Regions from separate parts of the Homo sapiens genome. Here region 2 is linked to region 1. The links come from fine-mapping of genetic effects on gene expression. Tissue or cell type: spinal cord. Region 1 holds a variant in brackets; the other region holds the start of a gene. All regions are shown on one strand. Distances are from middle to middle.

Evidence for each region. PIP is the estimated chance that this variant, and not a neighbour inherited with it, causes the effect.
Region 2: it holds the start of SCT, and the variant in region 1 is the best candidate, but not a certain one, in a credible set for the expression of SCT in spinal cord (GTEx, PIP 0.80).

Annotation. Positions count from the first base shown.
Region 1 is chr11:645,328-656,067 of GRCh38, forward strand. It overlaps DEAF1 (DEAF1 transcription factor), which reads right to left. Exons shown (of 12, transcript NM_021008.4): 11 at 8,635-8,724. LOC124902603 (a long non-coding RNA gene) reads left to right here and starts at 9,696. Exons shown (of 2, transcript XR_007062543.1): 1 at 9,696-10,240. The variant G/C (reference allele first, on the strand shown) is at 2,924.
Region 2 is chr11:622,242-630,829 of GRCh38, forward strand. SCT (secretin) reads right to left here and starts at 4,940. Exons shown (of 4, transcript NM_021920.4): 1 at 4,832-4,940; 2 at 4,647-4,748; 3 at 4,456-4,548; 4 at 4,068-4,289. The coding sequence starts at 4,902. The coding sequence ends at 4,190. CDHR5 (cadherin related family member 5) reads right to left here and starts at 2,714. Exons shown (of 15, transcript NM_021924.5): 1 at 2,577-2,714; 2 at 2,316-2,491; 3 at 1,972-2,022. The coding sequence starts at 2,661. RefSeq lists an enhancer at 4,474-4,974 and a silencer at 4,568-4,862.

The DNA of each region.
Region 1 (10,740 bases):
TGTTTTTCGGACAGAGTTTCGCTCTTGTTTCCCAGGCTGGAGTGTAACGCGCAATCTCGGCTCACCACGACCTCTGCCTCCTGGGTTCAAGCAATTCTCTTGCCTCAGCCTCCCTAGCAGCTGGGATTACAGGTGCACGCCACCACACCTGGCTAATGTTTTGCATTTTTAGTAGAGACAGGGTTTCACCATGTTGGTCAGGCTGGTCTCGAACTCCTGACCTCAGGGGATCTGCCCGCCTCGGCCTCCCAAAGTGCTGGGATGACAGGTGTGAGCCACTGCGCCCCGCCCCAGTTCTGTTTTTAATGGCAAAGATGAAAAAGCAAACTGGAACCAGCCCGTGGCTGCAGAGAAAGGAGGTGGGGGATGGTGCCTGGGAGAAGCCACAGCTCCTGTGAGGTCAGCACACAGAACCAGGCTCTGCCTCCCTGCTACGTCGAGCACCTCGGAATGGAGCAGAGCTCTAGAGGAAGCGCCAGGTGCTGAAGCTGAGACGGCCTCGTCAGACAGAGGCAGCTCCGTGCACGGGGGCGTGATAGGTACGTATATGACACACAGAGCAGAAATAAATGCTTCCAAATGGTGACAGAGTTATTCCCTAGAGAGCAGAATTCCAGCTGATTATAATAAAAGAGCAAAATTAGGCCGGGCGCAGTGGTTCACGGCTGTAATCCCATCATGTTGGGAGGCCGAGGTGGGCAGATCACCTGAGGCCAGGAGCTCGAGACCAGCCTGCCCAACATGGCAAAACCCCATCTCTACTAAAAATACAAAAACTAGCCGCCTGTGGTCATGCGCACCTGCAATCTCAGCTACTTGGGAGGCTGAGGCACAAGAATCACTTGAACCTGGGAGGCAGAGGTTGCAGTAAGCCAAGATTGTGCCACGGCACTCCAGCCCGGGCGACAGAGTGAGACTACGTCTCAAAAAAAAAAAAAAAAAAAAAATTAAAATTACCTGGTAATAGACTATAAATCTACATAGCATGAAAGCACATACATCAGCAAACTGCAGCATCGGGTGCAGACCCACCGCCCGCCCCTCCCGGGCCTCCACTCTGGGGCAACCAGGAAGGGTTCCGGTTCCTGCCGAGACTCTGTGTGGGGTGAGGGGCCTGCACCCCTCATGGGAGCTGCCCCCCGTGAGAGGATGTGGGCGGCGGACAAGGCCCCCAGGAGTTCTAGATGCTTCCTTCTCTGGTCTACAGGTTTGAGCCACTCCCTGGGGCCTGTGCAGATGGAGGGAGAGAGGGCGCACATCAGTGTTGACTCTGAGCTACAGAAGCTTCCATCAGGTTCTTCCAGCAAAGAGGCAAAGGCCCAGGGTTGACTTTTAAAATCAGAACTACTCAGTTCTTTTTTAAAGCAAATTTTTCCATCTTAAACATCAATGTGATGCTTCTTACAGTATAATGCTAAAACACTTTTGAAAAAAAAATCATTATCTGAAAAGCCAGAATTAGAAGTTAGCGTTTCAGTTTTTGAAAAACGGAAAAAAATGGTTAAATTCACAAGAAGCTAACAATGAAAGTGCCTGATACAAATAAATGAGAAAAGCCAACATCACAGACTGTAAAAACAATGACTTCGGGAGGTTGAGGTCACTTGAGGTCAGGGGTTGGAGACCAGCCTGAGCAACATAGCAAAACCCTATCTCTATAAAAAAAAAAAAATGTTTTAAAATTAGCTGGGTGTGGTGGCTCATGCCTGTGGTCCAAGCTACTTGGGAGACAGAGGCAGGAGGATCACTTGAGCCAGGAGATCAAGGCTGTAGTGAGCCGTGATGGCACCACTGGACTGCAGCCTGGGTGACAAAGCGAGACCCTGTCTATAGAAAACCTAAAATAGGCTGGGTACGGTGGCTCATGCCAGTAATCTCAGCACTTTGGGAGGCCAAGGCAGGCAGATCATGAGGTCAGGAGTTCAAGACCAGCCTGAACAACATGGTGAAACCCCGTCTCTGCTAAAAATACAAAAATTAGCCGGACGTGGTGGCGGGTGCCTGTAATCCCCAGCTACTAGGGAGGCTGAGGCAGGAGAATCGCTTGAACCTGGGAAGTGGAGGTTGCAGTGAGCCAAGATCGCGCCGCTGCACTCCAGCCTGGGTGACAGAGCCAGACCCTGTCTCAAAAACAGAAACAAAACCAAAAACAAACGAACAAATAAAAACCAAAAATAAGTAATGAAATAAAAACAGTGACTAAAAATCCAATTAAAACACAATCCAAATCTGACTTACAGTGATCCAGGCCTCACAAATGAAAATAATGATGCGTGGGGCTTGCTTTAAAATGCTCAGCCCTCAGCCCAAAGAGAGAGGGGGACAAGCCAGGAGGGCAGGCGCTAAAGCAGCTGATACAGGTGAGGGCGACGGGCCTCTCCTGGGCGATCCAACTCATGTGCACGTCTCACATTTTCCAAAGTTAAGGATTAAAAGAAAAGTGTTGCCACCACAGCACGTAGGTGACTCAATCCAGGCAGTGCTGGGAGCAGGTGGGTGGACTTGACCCAGGCGGTGCTGGGAGCAGGTGGGTGGACTTGACCCAGGCGGTGCTGGGAGCAGGTGGGTGGACTTGACCCAGGCGGTGCTGGGAGCAGGTGGGTGGACTTGACCCAGGCGGTGCTGGGAGCAGGTGGGTGGACTTGACCCAGGCGGTGCTGGGAGCAGGTGGGTGGACTTGACCCAGGCGGTGCTGGGAGCAGGTGGGTGGACTTGACCCAGGCGGTGCTGGGAGCAGGTGGGTGGACTTGACCCAGGCGGTGCTGGGAGCAGGGGATTCCTGTTGGGGCTTCATAACATGCATAAACTCGTGTATACTTTTGTGTACATACCAAGTCCTCTACAATTAATTTTTAAAATTATCACTGCCTTTTTTTTTTTTTTTTGAGACGGAGTCTCCCTTTGTCTCCCAGGCTGGAGTGCT[G/C]TGGCACGATCTCGGCTCACTGCAAGCTCCGCCTCCCGGGTTCATGCCATTCTCCTGCCTCAGCCTCCCGAGTACCTGGGACTACAGGCGCCCACCACCACGCCAAGCTAATTTTTTTGTATTTTTAGTAGAGACGGGGTTTCACCATGTTAGCCAGGATGGTCTCGATCTCCTGACCTCGTGATCCGCCCGCCTCGGCCTCCCAAAGTGCTGGGATTACAGGCGTGAGCCACCGTGCCCAGCTGAAGGCAGCTTTTTAAAGAACAGGATCTGAGGGAGGCTTGAGGACAGGGTGTCCTGGGCTGGAGGTCCGGCTGGAAGGCAGCTTTTAAAAGAACGGGATGTGTTCGTTCTGTAGGTGAAAGGAGCTCAGTAAGTGCTTATATTGGGGCCCAAATAGTGTTTGCCAGGAATGTATACACTCAGCCTCTGCAGTACACTTTCCCTGCTTGAGGAAATTCTATCCTCCTACTGAAACTGAGATAAATTAAAATGTATATTGTAATACCTATAGCAGTAAGAAAATAACAACTTTAAAGATACTGTTTAAAAATGTTCAACAAAAGAATTGAAGTGGTACACTAGAAAACACAACTAGAAAATACACATTTAACAGAAAAGAAGGCAGTGAAAGAACAGAGGAGCAAAACATGAAACATAAACTGCAAATATAAACACAAATCCACTCACATTGATAATTACATTAAACATGAGATTAGGTTTTGCGCAGTGGCTCATGCCTATAATCCCAGCACTTTGGGAGGCCAAGGTGGGAGGGTTACTTGAGCCCAGGAGTTCAAGACCAGCCTGGCCAACATGGCAAAACCCTCTCTCTACGAAAAATACAAAAATTAGCCTGGCATGGTGGTGCATGCCTGTAATCCCAACTACTTGGGAGGCTGAGGCAGGAGAATCGCTTGAACCCGGGAGGCAGAGGCTGCAGTGAGCCGAGATTGCGCCACTGCACTCTAGCCTGGGCAACCGTGCGAGACTCCATCACACACACACACAACAACAACAACAAAAACGGGCATGGTGGCGGGTGCCTGTAATCCCAGTTACTTGGGAGGCTGAAGGAGGAGTATTGCTTGAACCCGGGAAGCGGAGGTTGCACTGAGCTGAGATTGTGCCACTGCACTCTGGCCTGGGTGACAGAGAGAGACCCCACTTAAAAAAAAAAACAAAACAGCTGGGTGTGGTGGCTCACACCTATAATCCCAGCAGTTTGGGAGGCCGAGGCGGGCGGATCACTTGAGGTCAGGAGCTCAAGACCAGCCTGACCAACATGGTGAAACCCTGTGTCTACTAAAAGTACAAAAATTAGCCGGGTCTGATGGCACACTCCTGCAGTCCCAGTTACTCGGGAGAATGAGGCACGAGAATCCCTTAAACCCAGGAGGTGGAGGCTGCAGTGAGCCGAGATTACGCCAGTGCACTCCAGCCTGGGCAACAAAGTGATACTCTGTCTCAATTCAAAAAACAAAACAGGCCGAGTTCCAGTGCGGTGGCTCACACCTGTAATCTTAGAACTTTGGGAGGCTGAGGCGAGTGGATCACCTGAGGTCAGGAGTTCGAGACCAGCCTTGCCAACACGGAGAAACCCCATCTCTACTAAAAACACAAAAATTAGTTGGACGTGGTGGCTCATGCCTATAATCCCAGCTACTCAGGAGGCTGAGGAAGGGAAATCACTTGAACCCGGGACGTTGAGGTTGCAGTGGGCTGAGATCGTGCCATTGCACTCCAGCCTGGCGACAGAGTGAGATTGTCTAAAAAACAAAAACAAAAACAAAAACAAAAACAAAACAAAAAAGTAGATTAAACACTCCAATCAAAAGGCAGAGACTAGTGTGGTGGTTCACACCTGTAATCCCACCACTTTGGGAGGCTGAGGCGGGTGAATCTCTTGAGGTCAGGAGTTTGAGACCAGCCTGGCCAACATGGTGAAACCCGTCTCTATTAAAAATACAAAAATTAGCTGAGTGTGGTGGCAGGAGCCTGTAATCCCAGCTACTTGGGAGGCTGAGCTATGAGAATCACTTGAACCCAGGAGATGGAGGTTGCAGTGAGTGGAGATGGAGCCACTGCATTCCAGCCTGGGGGACAGAGTGACAGTCCGTCTCAAAAAAAAAAAAAAAAAAAAAAAAAAGGCAGAGACTATCAGACTAGATTAAAACCTAAGATCCAACCACATTCTGTCTCTAAGGGAATGCTTAAGAGCCAAGGACACAAAATTAGAAGTAACAAGATGTTTGTTTATTTATATGTTTATTTAATTAAAAAATAGAAACAGGGTCTCGCTTTGTTGGCCAGGCTGGCCCTGGGCTCAAGAGATCCTCCCCTCTTGGCCTCCCAAAGTGTTGGGATGACTGGTGTGGGCCACTGCACCCAGCCAAAAAGGTTTTTTTTAAAAAGATGCAGGCTGGGCGCAGTGACTCATGCCTGTCATCCCAGCACTTTGGGAGGCCAAGCGGGGGTGGAACACTTGAGTCCAAGGGGTCGAGACCAGCCTGGGCAAAATGGCGAAACCCCGTCTCAACTAAAAATACAAAGAATTAGCTGGGCGTGGGGCGTGTATCTGTAGAGGCTGCCGTGAGTCAAGATCATGCCACTGCGCTCCAGTCTGGGTGACAGAGTGAGACTCTGTCTCAAAAGTAAAAGATGCAAACATTCACCATAAGACAGGTGGAGTGTCTATGCTACTATCAGAAAAGGTAATTTTTTTTTTTTGAGATGGAGTCTCGCTCTGTTGCCCAGACTAGAGTGCAGTGGAGTGATCTTGGCTTACTGCAACCTCCGCCTCCCAGGTTCAAGCAATCCTCCTGCCTCAGCCCCGCTAGTAGCTGGGATTACAGGCACGCGCCACCACGCCTGGCTAATTTTTGTGTTTTTAGTAGAGATGGGGTCTTACCATGTTAGCCAAGCTGGTCTCAAACTCCCGACCGGTGATCCACCTGCCTCAGCCTCCCAAAGTGCTGGGATGACAGGCGTGAGCCACTGTGCCCAGCTAGAAAAAGTAAATTTTAATATAAAAACTTCTGTTGGCTGGTGTAGTGCCTCATGCCTATAATCCTAGCACTTTGGGAGGCTGACATGGGAGGATCGCCCGAAGCCAGGAGATGGAGACCAGGCTGGTCAACATAGTAAGACTCCATCTCTGTAAGAAAAAAAAAAAAAAAATTAAATAAAAAATAAAAAACTTATTGAGACAAAGAAGGATGTTTTATAATGATAAAAGAGCTAATTCATCAGGAATGATAATTATAAACTAAACATACATGCACCTAACAACAGAGACCCAAAATAAATGAAGCAAAAACAGGCATAATGGCAGATAAAAACAGATAATTCAGCTGGGCACGGTGGCTCACGCCTGTAATCCCAGCACTTTGAAAGGAGACTGAGGAGGGCAGATCACAAGGTCAGGAGATCGAGACCATCCTGGCTAACACAGTGAAACCCTGTCTCTACTAAAAATACAAAAAATCAGCCGGGCGTGGTGGCGGGTGCCTGTGGTCCCAGCTACTCGGGAGGCTGAGGCAGGAGAATGGCGTGAACCTGGGAGGCGGAGCTTGCGGTGAGCTGAGATGGCGCCACTACACTCCAGCCTGGGCGACAGAGCGAGACTCCGTCTCAAAAACAAAAACAAAAACCAGATAATTCAACAGTAATAGCTGGAGAGTTCAACACTTCACTCTAAATAAGGGGTAGAACAAATAGAGAAAATCAGTGAGAATATGAAAGAGTTGAACAATACTATCAACCAACCTAACTGATATCTAATACTCCACCCAACAGAGCAGAATATACAAGCAACACTCTCCATGATAAGACCATACGCTAGGCCCTAACACAAATCTCAATAAATTTAAAGGTACTGAAAAACACTAAGTATGTTCTTGAACCACAATGTAATTAAAGTAGAAATTAATTATAAAGGTACATTTAAGAAATCCAGAAATATTTGAAATTAGCATACTTCTTTTTTAGATCTACTCCTGAATCCAGCACACACTTCCAAATAACTCATAGGTCACAGAAAAAAATCACACGGCAAATATTTTCAACTGCATAAAATATTCGAACTGAATAAAGATGAAACACAGGCTGGGTGCCGTGGCTCACACTTGCAATCCCAGCAATTTGGGAGGCCGAGGCAGGCAGATCACTTGAGGCCAGAAGTTTGAGACCAGCCTGGGCAACATGGTGAAACCCTGTCTCTACTAAAAACATAAAAATTAGCCGGGGGTGGAGGTGCATGCCTGTAATCCCAGCTACTCGGGAGGCTGAGGTAGGAGAATCACTTGAACCCGGGAGGCAGAGGTTGCAGTGAGCCGAGATCTTGCCACTGCACTCCAGCCTGGGCTACAGAGCAAAACTGTCTCAAAAAGAAAATAGAGAAGGAGGGCAGAAGGGCACACTTCCCAATTGATCTGAAAGGCCAGTGTTGCTCTGACACCAACATGAAACAAAGACATCACAGGACAAAATATAGACCAGCATCTCTCATAAATATGAGAAAAAAAAACCATCAAAAAGATTAGTAAAGCTGCTGGGAACAGTAGCTCACACCTCTAAATCCCAGCACTTTGGGAGGCCAAGGTGGGTGGATCACCTGAGGTCAGGAGTTCGAGACCAGCTTGCCCAACGTGGTGAGACCCCGTCTCTACTAAAAATACAAAAATTAGCCAGGTATGGTGGCGCATGCCTGTAATCCCAGCTACTCGGGAGGCTGAGGCAGGAGAATCGCTTGAACCCGGGAGGCAGAGGTTGCAGCGAGCCAAGATCGCACCACTGCACTCCAGCCTGGGTGACAGAATGAGACTCTGTCTCAAAAAAAAAAAAAAAAAAAAAAAAAAAGAGTGACTAAATGCTCCCGAGTACTCTGATTATGGTAGACAAAGTTATACAATCCTGAACTACCGTTTGTAGCCTACAAAATTTCTCTTGAATTTCTGTGGAGCGGAGGGCTGAATAATAGAGGAACTGTGGACGCTGTCTCTCGCGTGGCTCTGCAGGGGTGTGGAGGGCTCAATAATAGAGGAACTGTGGACAGTCTCTCTCTCGCGTGGCTCTGCAGGGGTGTGGAGGGCTCAATAATAGAGGAACTGTGGACGCTCTCTCTCGCGTGGCTCTGCAGGGGTGTGGAGGGCTCAATAATAGAGGAACTGTGGACAGTCTCTCTCGCGTGGCTCTGCAGGGGTGTGGAGGGCTCAATAATAGAAGAACTGTGGACAGTCTCTCTCGCGTGGCTCTGCAGGGGTGTGGAGGGCTCAATAATAGAGGAACTGTGGACAGTCTCTCTTGCGTGGCTCTGCAGGGGTGTGGAGGGCTGAATAATAGAGGAACTGTGGACAGTCTCTCTCACGTGGCTCTGCAGGGGTGTGGAGGGCTCAATAATGGAACTGTGGACAGTCTCTCTTGCGTGGCTGTGCAGGGGTGTGGAGGGCTGGGAAGCACTGACCAGCAGCCCTCAGGGTTTCCGGCCACCAACTGTGGGGCCTCACATGAGAGCACTACCTGGCCATGTCACATGTGAGCCTTCTGCAGGGTCTTCACGGAGCCAGGCAGGAGCCCCGGATTCCCAGAGGGAGGGACAGGGAGGGGAGTCAGGTGTGGCACCAGGAGCACAAGGGGAGGGAGGGCCACCCAGGGGTCTTCGTAGCGAGGGAGGAGGCGGGGGCACTGAGCCTGGTGTAGGTGAGACCTACCTTGCGTTGGCAGAAGGTGGAGCAGTAGTTGACCTTGTGGCAGCCGGTGCACTCGCTCATAGCCTCCCGGCCGCAGTTAACGCAGGACTGCTGCAAGAAGGACACAACAGGCCAGTCAGTGACGTGGCCGTGGAGAGCCCCTGAGACACCGGGGACAGAGGCAGGTGCAGGCAGGAGGCCCCAAGTTCCCCCCATTGGACCCCCTTTTTTTTTTTTTTTTTTTTTGAGATGGAGTCTCACTCTGTCGCCCAGGCTGGAGTGCCGTGGTGCGATCTCAGCTCACTGCAACTTCCGCCTCCTGGGTTCAAGCAATTCTCCTGTCTCAGCCTCCTGAGTCTGGGATGATAGGTGCCTGACACCACGCCCAGCTAATTTGTGTATTTTTAGTAGAGACAGGGTTTCACCATGTTGGTCAGGCTGGTCTTGAACCTCTGACCTCGTGATCCACCTGCCTCGGCCTCCCAAAGTGCTGGGATTACAGGCGTGAGCCACTGCGCCCAGCTCCCATTGGACTCTTGACTGCGCCTCTGCCCCAGTGCTGCTCAGAACGTTCTTGTCACCTCCAGAATCAGCTCTTTCCTGGCCTCAGTGCAGTTTGCCCCCTACATTCATTCACTGGAAGACCAGTATGGGCCGGGAGCAGCGGCTCATACCTGTAATCCCAGGACTTTGGGCAGCCGAGGCGGGTGGATCACCTGAGGTCAGGAGTTCAGCACAGGCAACGTTGCGAAACCCAGTCTCTACTAAAAATACAAAAATTAGCTGGGTGTGGTGGTGGCCACCTGTAATCCCAGCTACCTGGGAGGCTGAGGTGGGAGAATAGCTTGCACCCAGGAGGCGGAGGTTGCAGTGAACCGAGATTGCACTACTGCACTCCAGCCTGGGTGACAGAGCGAGACTCCCATCTCAAAAAAAAAGGGAAATCAGGGCCGGATGCAGTGGCTCATGCCTGTAATCCCAGCACTTTAGGAGGCTGAGGTGGGCGGATCACGAAGTTAGGAGATCGAGACCATCCTGGCTAACACGGTGAAACCCCGAGATTGTACCATTGCACTCCAGCCTGGGCGACAGAGCAAGACTGTCTCCAAAACAAACAAACAAACAAACAAACAAAAACAAAGGGAAATCAGCATGGAAATCTTTCTCCAAACTCCAAGGAGCTTCACTCCAGCCAGGCCAGCACAGAAAATCAAACTCAGGAGTCCACCGCTCCCAACACTCCTGAGCAGGGCTGTGGGCATCAGCCTGGGCGCACCGTGGCAGGCATGTGTCCCAAACTGCTGCGGCGGTGCCCCAGCCAACACCCCCACGGCCCCACCTGAGCTGGTTTCTGTGGTGGATTGAAAAGATGCCACCAGAGGTTTGTGTACTTTCTCCTGGAATTACATTATTGGAGCTTTTCTTTTTAATCAGCGCATAGGTCAACATGCTGTCAATGATTAATGTTTGCGGCATGACTAAGGTGCTTGACAGTTGTGAGCTCCGCCGTCAATGCTCTCTGAGACGGAGAAGACCACTGGGCCTAGGAGAGGCCTTGGCGCCGCGACCTGCACGCCCGCTATGCGCCCAGATCATCCGCAGCTGCGGGAGGGGCCGTGGCCAGTGGGTGAGTGGCAGCGTCTGTGAGCAGCACAGAGCAGCACAGGAAACGACTCCAGCGCGGCCCCACGGCCCCTGCACGCGTGCAGACCTGCTCCGAGGTTCTGTTCTGATGCTTGCCTCCCTCCTTCGCAAACGTGATCTTTAACATTTTTCCAGTTGTAAGACATTCAGAGCTCCGACATTCAGTCACTCACTTCAGAAAACAGGAGCATTAGGAGGAATTTTGGTGCTAATTTAGGTTGCCCCCTGCCTCTACTTTATTTATTTATTATTATTATTATTTTTTTGAGATGGAGTCTCACTCTGTCGCCCAGGCTGGAGTGTAGTGGCGCAATCTCGGCTCACTGCAACCTCCACCTCCTGGGTTTAAGTGATTCTTGTGCCTCAGCCTCCCCACAGCTGGGACTACAGGCACGGACCACCACGCCTGGCTAATTTTTTTGTATTTTTAGTACAGATGGGGTTTCACCATATTGGTCAGGCTGGTCTCGAGCTCCTGACCTC
Region 2 (8,588 bases), 24 kb before region 1:
AGATCACAAGAGACAAATCTCTGCCTGGTGGTGCCTGTCCTGGCAGGACTTATAACAACAGACAAAAAGGACTTTATAAAGCCAGGAGGTGGCAGGTGCTCCACAGAAAAATAATGCAGGTACTTGGGGATGCAGCCAGCAGAATCTCAGGTGAGGAAAGACAATCCATTTTCTTTTCTCTGTTTTTTTTTTTTTTTGGTTTTTGTTTTTGTTTTTTGGTTTTTGGGTTTTTTTGGATACAGTCTCGCTCTGTCGTCACCCAGGCTGGAGTACAGTGGTGTGATCTCGGCTCACTGCAACCTCTGCCTCCCAGGTTCAAGCGATTCTCCTGCCTCGGCCTCTGCCCACCTCGGCCTCCCAAAGTGCTGGGATTACAGGTGCCTGCCACCATGCCCAGCTAATTTTTGTATTTTTAGTAGAGACGGGGTTTCACCATTTTGGCCACATTGGTCTCGAACTCTTGACCTCAGGTGATCTACCCGCCTCGGCCTCCCAAAGTGCTGGGATTCCAGGTGTGAGCCACGGCGCCCAGCCAGGACTCTTCTTTTTAGAACATAACCACAATGTCGTTGTCACACCTGGGAAAAGCGGTCACTTTCTACCTCAAATGTCCAGGATGCCACATTCCCCGTGGTCTCTGAAGGGTTTTTTAACAATTGTTTGTTTGAATCAGGGCCCACATTATGGACCTGGTTGGTAATTCTCCTGAGTTTCTGTTCATCTGTACCTTTCCCTTTCTCCCATCTTTTTTCCTGGAGATTTATTTGTGAAGAAACTGGATTGTCAGCCGGGCACGGTGGCTCACACCTGTAATCCCAGCACTTTGGGAGGCCGAGGCGGGCAGATCACCTGAGGTCAGGAGTTTGAGACCAGCCTGACCAACATGGAGAAACCCCGTCGCTACTAAAAATACAAAAATTAGCCGGCCGTGGTGGCGCATGCTTGTAATCCCAGCTACTCAAGAGGCTGAGGCAGGAGAATCGCTTGGACCCGGGAGGCGGAAGTTGCAGTGAGCCGAGATCGCTCCACTGCACGCCAGCCTGGGTGACAGAGTGAGACTCTGTCTCAAAAAAGAGTCTCTCTCTTTCAGAGACATATCCCAAGATATGTGCAGGTGACGTGCCGTGGTGCATGGAGGGCACAGAGCCTGCTGTGTGCTGGTAGGTGAGGGGGCCTGTGCTGGCCTCAGGATTCTGCAATTTTCCTTAATAAAGCCGAAAAAAATGCCGCCGGTCAAGAAGCAGGATGTTGGGGGAGCGGGGCTGGGATGCAACAGGGCATAGGGTGGTTGGGATTTCTCTGAAGACTGCAGTCCTGAGCCGGTGAGGGAGGGGCGTGCCTGGCGGGAGCCCTGAGGCTGCAGTGGAGCCTCTGCACAGTATGTCTGGGTTTGACTCGGTGAGAAAGGAGCCGTGGAGGGCTGGGGTGGGCTGGGCAGCCTTGGTTTACAACATCCACAGGGGCTGTTCTGCCACGTGGAGTGGACTGGGGCCAGCAAAGGGCAACAGGGAAGCCGGTGGGCCAGCTGGAAGTTTCCCAAAATGAGTGCTGGTGTCCCGGCCCTGATGGGACTGGAGGTGGACAGACTCTGGATTTCTGGGTCGAGCTGGGGCACAGCCAACAGATTTACCAGTGGGGGGCTGTGGGGGACACGTGGGGAGGGAGGGCGAGTGGGAACCAAGGTGGTCCCCGTGACTGGCAGGATAAAGGTGCCTCCCTTGTGGATGGTTGAGGGAGTGGGTGGGAGTCTTGGGCACACTGGATGGGGTGTCTGCTGGACAAGGGGTCAGTGACGGGGACTCCACAGCTCAGGGCAGAGTCTGGACTGGAGGAAATGTGGGCATCACCCTCGGGGGGGTGGAATTTGAAACCACACCCTAGCTGACGTCATCAAAGACTGGTCCTGGACCGGCAGGGCAGAGCCCAGCAGAGGTGGCCGGGTGGGGCGGGGAGAGCGGGGCGGGGACTCACCAATGTGCCTCCGCTCTGACACAGCAGCTGAGCCTCAAGCAGTGACTTCTCCTGTGGATGTAGACAGGTCTGCAGTCACCGTCCTGCCCCACAGGTGGGGAGACTGAGGCCAAGTGGGCAGGCGCTGGCCCAGGGTCCCCATCATCAGTGGTCAGTGCTGAGGGTGTGGGCCCAGGCAGCTTCATCCCGAAATGGCCCAGCCTTCTAGGGCAGGCACCACCAAGCATGGGTGTCAGTGGATGCCCGCAGGCATAGAACTCCTAGGCCCCCAAGGGAGGTGTGGCCTGAGGATGCAGGTGCCCTTCTCCCGGGACCCCCATATCCCGCCCGCCTGCCGCCCACACCTCGTAATCAGGAGTCACGTTGAGAAACAGCTGGTTTCCCTGGATCCGAAATGCAAAGGGGGTGGACAAGGCTCCGAGGGTCACCTCCTGGCCCTCCGGGACGTGGATGTCCACCAGCGGCTCGGTGACATTTGTGTTCTCCTCTACTTCAAAGATGTCCTTGTTCACAGAGCAGTCTGTAAGGTTGCAGAGGAGGGATCAGTGCCTCCCAGCCCCTGGCTCCCCGCCGCCCGTGCCCCACCTACCCCTGCCCGCACATACACTGGGCCTGGGCCATGGTCCCCGGGGGTCGGACGAGCAGCCCGGTGAACAGCAGGGGAGGCCACAGCAGGGCCCAAGACCCCATCTTGGCGGCTGTCACCTGGCAGGAGGGTCTGAGCGGGTCTGGCGTCTAGGACTGGCGCAGTTCCTACCTCAGCGACCTTCGCCCCAGCCAGACGCCGCCCAGTTTATGATCCTTTACGACCGGCTTCTGCCAAGGGGGCTCCCGCTGGCCGGCTGGTCCAGCCCACTGCCAGAAGGAGGGGCAGTCGTTTGGCCCAAGTTGGACTGAGTGCAGGGGTCAACCAGGGGGCTCAGGTCACAGGCACCGAGGCACAGGGCAGAAGGGACTGGAGAGCGGCTCATGGGTGCCGTGGGGGTAGGGGCAGGGCAGGGGCAGGGCTAGGGTGTGGGAGAGAAGCTGGGGGCTGGGGGCGGGGGCTCGGCCCTTGGTGTCGGGGTGTCTGGAACCTGCCTCCCTAGCCCAGGCTGCCCTGGCTTGGCTCCTCCCCTAAGATCTCCCTCAGGCAAAGTTCCTAAGGCCACCCCTTGAGGCTCAGAACCCGGGTGTTCCCCAGGGAGCACCTCCCTCCCTGCCTGACAGCAGGTTCTGAAGGAAAAGGCTCTCCTCACTGTGTCCTGGGGACACCCCTGCCTGCCCCAGAGACAAGTCGGCTTCTCAGGGCGGGGCTGGACAGGGCCTTAGTGACTGAGGCTAAGGCGGGGCTGTGAGGGGCAGCTGGGAGTTCCTGGGGGGCCCTGGTGCCCGACAGAGGGGGTGAGGTGAGACTCGACACTTGCCCTGCTCTTTTCATTGGCCCCCCAGAAGCCCCCAGCTCTAGGGAGAGGCCACTGGGTAGGGTCGGGGCGAGGAAGTGGCTGTCGTGAGGGGTAGGTGGAGTTCTCCTCCTCCAGGCCTGTGCGCCGAAGCTTCTGGCCTCTCATGGCTGGGGCTGGGCTCAGTGTCCTAACCCTGCACGGTGCCCTCATGGTCGCCTTCAAGCCCTGCACGCTCCGTGCTCCACAGGCTCTGAGGGGTCAAGCCACTGGTCCGAGGCCACACGAGACAGAGGGTCCGGAGTCCTCACGCCAGAGTGGATTCCTGGCACCCCAGGTGACACCTCCACCCTCCCCTCTTCCTGCCCGCCTGAGCCCCCCTGGCCCCTTCACACCCTCCCCACTACCCCTTACAGAAACACTGACCACATGGGCCCCCGGGCAGGAGCTGAGAGGGTGTCCGGGATCCCCCGAGCCCCAGAATGTTTCCTAATGGATGACAAGGGGTGGGGCGGGGCCCTGCAGTACTTAGTCGAGGTACAGGAGGTGGCCCTGATGCCAGAGATAAGGATGAGGGGCCGCCGTGCCTGCAGGTGTAAAGGGCAGCTGGGTGTGGTCAGTCCCTCCTGGGTGGATGGGCCTCCATCCATCCCTCAGCCCCGCTACACAGGGGTTGCCTCGATTACACTGAGTGGACACAGACAACTCCCAGCGTCTGGGTCTGATTCCTCCTTTATTGGTGCCAAGTACCACCCCTCCCCCTCTCCCCCATCCTGCCCCCCACCCCAAATGCAGCTGCGCTCCTGGGCCGGGCAGGTGGTGAGGGGGTTCCTTCCTCATCTGGGCCGCAAGGTTCCTTCTGCAGCAGCGCCAGCTGGTTCTGAAACCATAGGCCCAGGGGGCAGCCAGGGAGACCAGGTCCCGTCCAGGGGCATCCTGCAGAGACAGCACGTGAGGGTCTGAGGGCTGGGGCTGGAGACCCCGGCCCCGCTGCTGGAATTGGGCCTCCAGTGGCCACCAGCGCTGACCCGGGGAGGCCAGGACAGAAGGAGGGGTCTGGGGTGGGGTCTGGAGTGGGGTCTGCGGTGGGGCGGGTGCTCACCAGGCCTGCAGGATGGGCATGTTGGACCCTGACGGGCAGAGCAGACCCGCGCTGAGCCTGGTCCAGGCCATGCTGTTCTCTGCGTCCTGCTCGCTGCCCCCCGCCCCAAAACAGAGTTAGTCCTGGAGCTGGGGGGTCGCGCGTTGCTGCTGGGGCACCACGCCAGGACCCCCCACCCCACCCGGCCTCACCTGCGCTTCCCCACCAGGCCCTGTAGCAGCCGCTGGAGCCGCGCGCCCTCCCGCAGGCGGCTGAGCTCGCTGGTGAACGTCCCGTCTGAGTGTCGCCGGGCCCTGCGGGCGGTCGGGGGTCGGGGTCAGGGCGCACTGGGGGCGGGTGGGGCCCGGGGGGCGGGCGGGCCTGGCGGGCGGCTCACCTGGGGGGCGCGGGGCGCGCGGCGGAGCCCCCGAGGAGCAGCAGCAGCAGCAGGAGGGGCCGGGGGGCCATGGCGGGGTCGGGGCGCAGGAGCTGAGCGCTGCGGCCACGGCCCCGGGCCCCCGCAAGGCCCCTTTATGGCGGCGCCCGGAAAGGGGACGGCCCGGCCGCGCCCAGCGATCCCGGGAAGGTCAGGGCCGCCCCCCCAGCTGTCGCCCCGGCCCGGCCTCCCGCCCCCTCCGCCGCGCTGGCGCCCCTCGGCCGGCTGGGGGAGGGGGACGTCCCGGCCTGGGGGGCGAACGGAGCGCGGGCCTGGGACCCGCAGAGGGAACCGCACCGCGAAGCCTCGGAGCCTGCGGGGGCGGAGGGGCCGGAGGGCTTGGGGGAGGGTTTGGGGGGGGACTGGGGGGCCCCGGGGAAGGGGCTGCGGCCGGAGTTCCGGAGGCCCCTGGAGCACCTTGCTGGGGCGAGTTCGTCTCCAGCTTCAGCGTGGCGTGACTGTTGGGGGGCCGGTGTTGCCATTTTATCTGCTTTGAAGTGCGCGATTCAGGATCATTCGGTGCATCCATCCCCACCATCCGTTCTCAGACTTTCCCGTCCTCCCAAAATCCGTTCACAGACGCTCCCGTCCTCCCAAAATCCGTTCACAGACGCTCCCGTCCTCCCAAAATCCGTTCACAGACGCTCCCGTCCTCCCAAAATCGTTCACAGACGCTCCCGTCCTCCCAAAATCGTTCACAGACGCTCCCGTCCTCCCAAAATCGTTCACAGACGCTCCCGTCCTCCCAAAATCCGTTCTCAGACTCTTCCGTCCTCCAAAAATCCATTCTCAGACTCTTCCGTCCTCCCAAAATCCGTTCTCAGACTCTCCCGTCCTCTCAAAATCTGTTCACAGACGCTCCCGTCCTCCCAAAATCCGTTCACAGACGCTCCCGTCCTCCCAAAATCCGTTCACAGACGCTCCCGTCCTCCCAAAATCCGTTCTCAGACTCTCCTGTCCTCCCAGAATGAAGCTCTGTCCCCATCAAACGCCCCCTCCCCTCCTCAGCCCCGGCGCCCCGTCCACTTTCTGTCTGTGGATTCAGCGCTTCCAGGGACTGCGCGCAGGGGGAGCCTCACGGGATTTGTCCTTTGGAGACCGGCTGGATTCTCAGCGCAGCATCCTCCGCCTTCGCCGCCGCGGCCTGGCCTGTGTGGGAATCTCCTTCCCTTTTGTGGGGAACTGTGTCCCGCTGTGTGCAGGGACCGCATCGACCGCGTCCGCTCATCTGTGGGCATCTTGATGGACACCTGGGCTGCCTCCCCTTTGGGGCGACGGCGAGTAACGCTGCTGTGAACGTGGGTGTGCAAACGGCGCTTCCCGATCCCGTTTTCAAGCGTTCTTGGTGTATAGTTATGAGGGAATTGCTGGGTGACAGAGTAATTATGTGTTAAATATTCTGAGGAAACGCCAAACTGTCTTCCCAGCAGCGCAGCAGGGACACGGTTCTTGTCCTCGCCAACACTTGCTACTTTGTGGCTTTTTGTTTGTCGCGTACTAACGATGCCGGTGGGTGCGACGTGGTGTCTCGCTGCGGTTTTGATTGGCATCTCCCTAATGGCCAGCGATGTGGAGCATGTTCTCAAGTGTCTGTGAGCCATTTATACATCATGGAGTGGACGGAGAAATGGCCGTCAAGCCCTTTGATGTTCTGCTGTGGTTGCGAGTCATGCACTGTATCCGTCTGTTAAATCAGCCACAATATTTTCCCCAGCGTTTGCATCATTTCACAGCCCCGCCAGCAATGTGGGGCTGGCTGGCTGGCTGGCTTGCTGGCTTGCTTGCTTTTCTTTCTTTCTTTCTTTCTTTCTTTCTTTCTTTCTTTCTTTCTTTCTTTCTTTCTTTTTCTTTCTTTCTTTCTTTCTTTCTTTTTTTCTTTTTCTTCCTTTCTTCCTTTCTTCTTCCTTTCTTCCTTTCTTTCCTTCCTTTCTTTCTTTTTCAGAGGGAGTCTCGTTCTGTCACCCAGGCTGGAGTGCCGTGGGGCCATCTCAGCTCACTGCAACCTCCGCCTCCCGGTTTCAAGCAGTTCTTGTGCCTCGGCCCTCCAAGTAGCTGGGATTACAGGTGCCTGCCACTATGACTGGCTAATTTTTATATTTTTAGTAGAGACAGGGTTTCACCATGTTGCCCAGGCTGGTCTGAAACTCCTGACCTCAAGTGATCCACCTGCCTCGGCCTTCCAAAGCACTGGGATTACAGGCGTGAGCCACAGCGCCCGGCCTCACTTTCTCTGCACACTGTCAACATCCCTGCAGTCGCTATTTTTAACCTTCAGCCATTCTCTCTGCGGCAACACCTCCTTGTGGTCTTAGTTGCATTTCCCCAGTGGCGGGTGATTCCGAACCTCTTTCCAGGTGCTTGTTTCCATTTGCATGTTGTCGTGGGTTAAATGTATCTTCACATCTCTTGCCCGTTTTTAAATTGTTCTCTACTGCTGAGTTTTGTTTTTTTTTTTATTGTGGGAAAACATGCATAACATGAAACTTACCATTTTAGCCATTTTAAAGTATGAAGTGATACTTAGTACGGTCACGGAATTATACAACCAGCACCGCTGTTTAGTTCCAGAACTTTTTACTCCCCAGATGGAAAATCTCAAATCCATAAAGCATTTACCTCCCCTTCCCCCATCCCTTCAGCTCCTGAGTAACAATGAATTTACTTTCTGTCTCTGTGGATCTGCCTGTTCTGGGTATTTCATACCAATAAAATCCTAAAAGCTGGGCATGGTGGTACATGCCTGTGGTCTCGGCTACTTGAGACGGTGAGGCAGGAGGATGGTTTGAGGCCAGGAGTTCGAGACCAGCCTGGGAAACATAGCAAGACCCTGGTCACTATTTTTATTTATTTATTTATTTTTATTTATTTGTTTTGAGATGGAGTTTCACTCTTGTTGCCCAGACTGGAGTGCAATGGCGCGATCTTGGCCCACTGCAACTTCCGCCTTCTGGGTTCAAGCAATTCTCCTGCCTCAGCCTCTGGAGTTGCTGGGATTACAGCACCACCATGCCCAGCTAATTGTGTACTTTTCATGGAGGCAGGGTTTTGCCATATTGGTCAGGCTGGTCTTGAACTCCTGACCTCAGGTGATCCGCCCGCCTCAGCCTCCCAAAGTGCTGGGATTACACGCAGGAGCCACCGCGCCTGGCCCCAGAATTTCATTCATTTTAATGGAAAAATCACACTGCATTTGGTTCATCCATTCACCTGCTGAGGACGTTTGGTTTATTTCTACCTTGTATATATTGTGTTTGTTTGTCTGCTTGAGACAGAATCTCGTTCTGTTGCCCAGGCTGGAGTGCAGTATATGATCTCCGCTCACTGCAACCTCCGCCTACCAGGTTTAAGTGATTCCCCTGCCTCAGCCTCCTAAGTAGTGGGACTACAGGCATGCACCACCACACCCCCTAATTTTTGTATTTTTAAAAAATATTTATTTATTTATTTACTTTAGAGACGGACTCTCACTCTGTCACCCAGGCTGGAGTGCACTGACCTGATCTCAGCTCACTGCAACCTCCGCCTCCCGGGTTCAAGCTATTCTCCTGCCTCAGCCTCCCAAGTAGCTGGGATTACAGGCACCTGCCACGCCCGGCTAATTTTTGTATTTTTAGTAGAGACGGGGTTTAACCCTGTTGGCCAGGCTGGTCTCCAACTCCAGGTCTCAGGTGATCCACCCGCCTCGGCCTCCCAAAGTGCTAGGGTTACAGGCATGAGC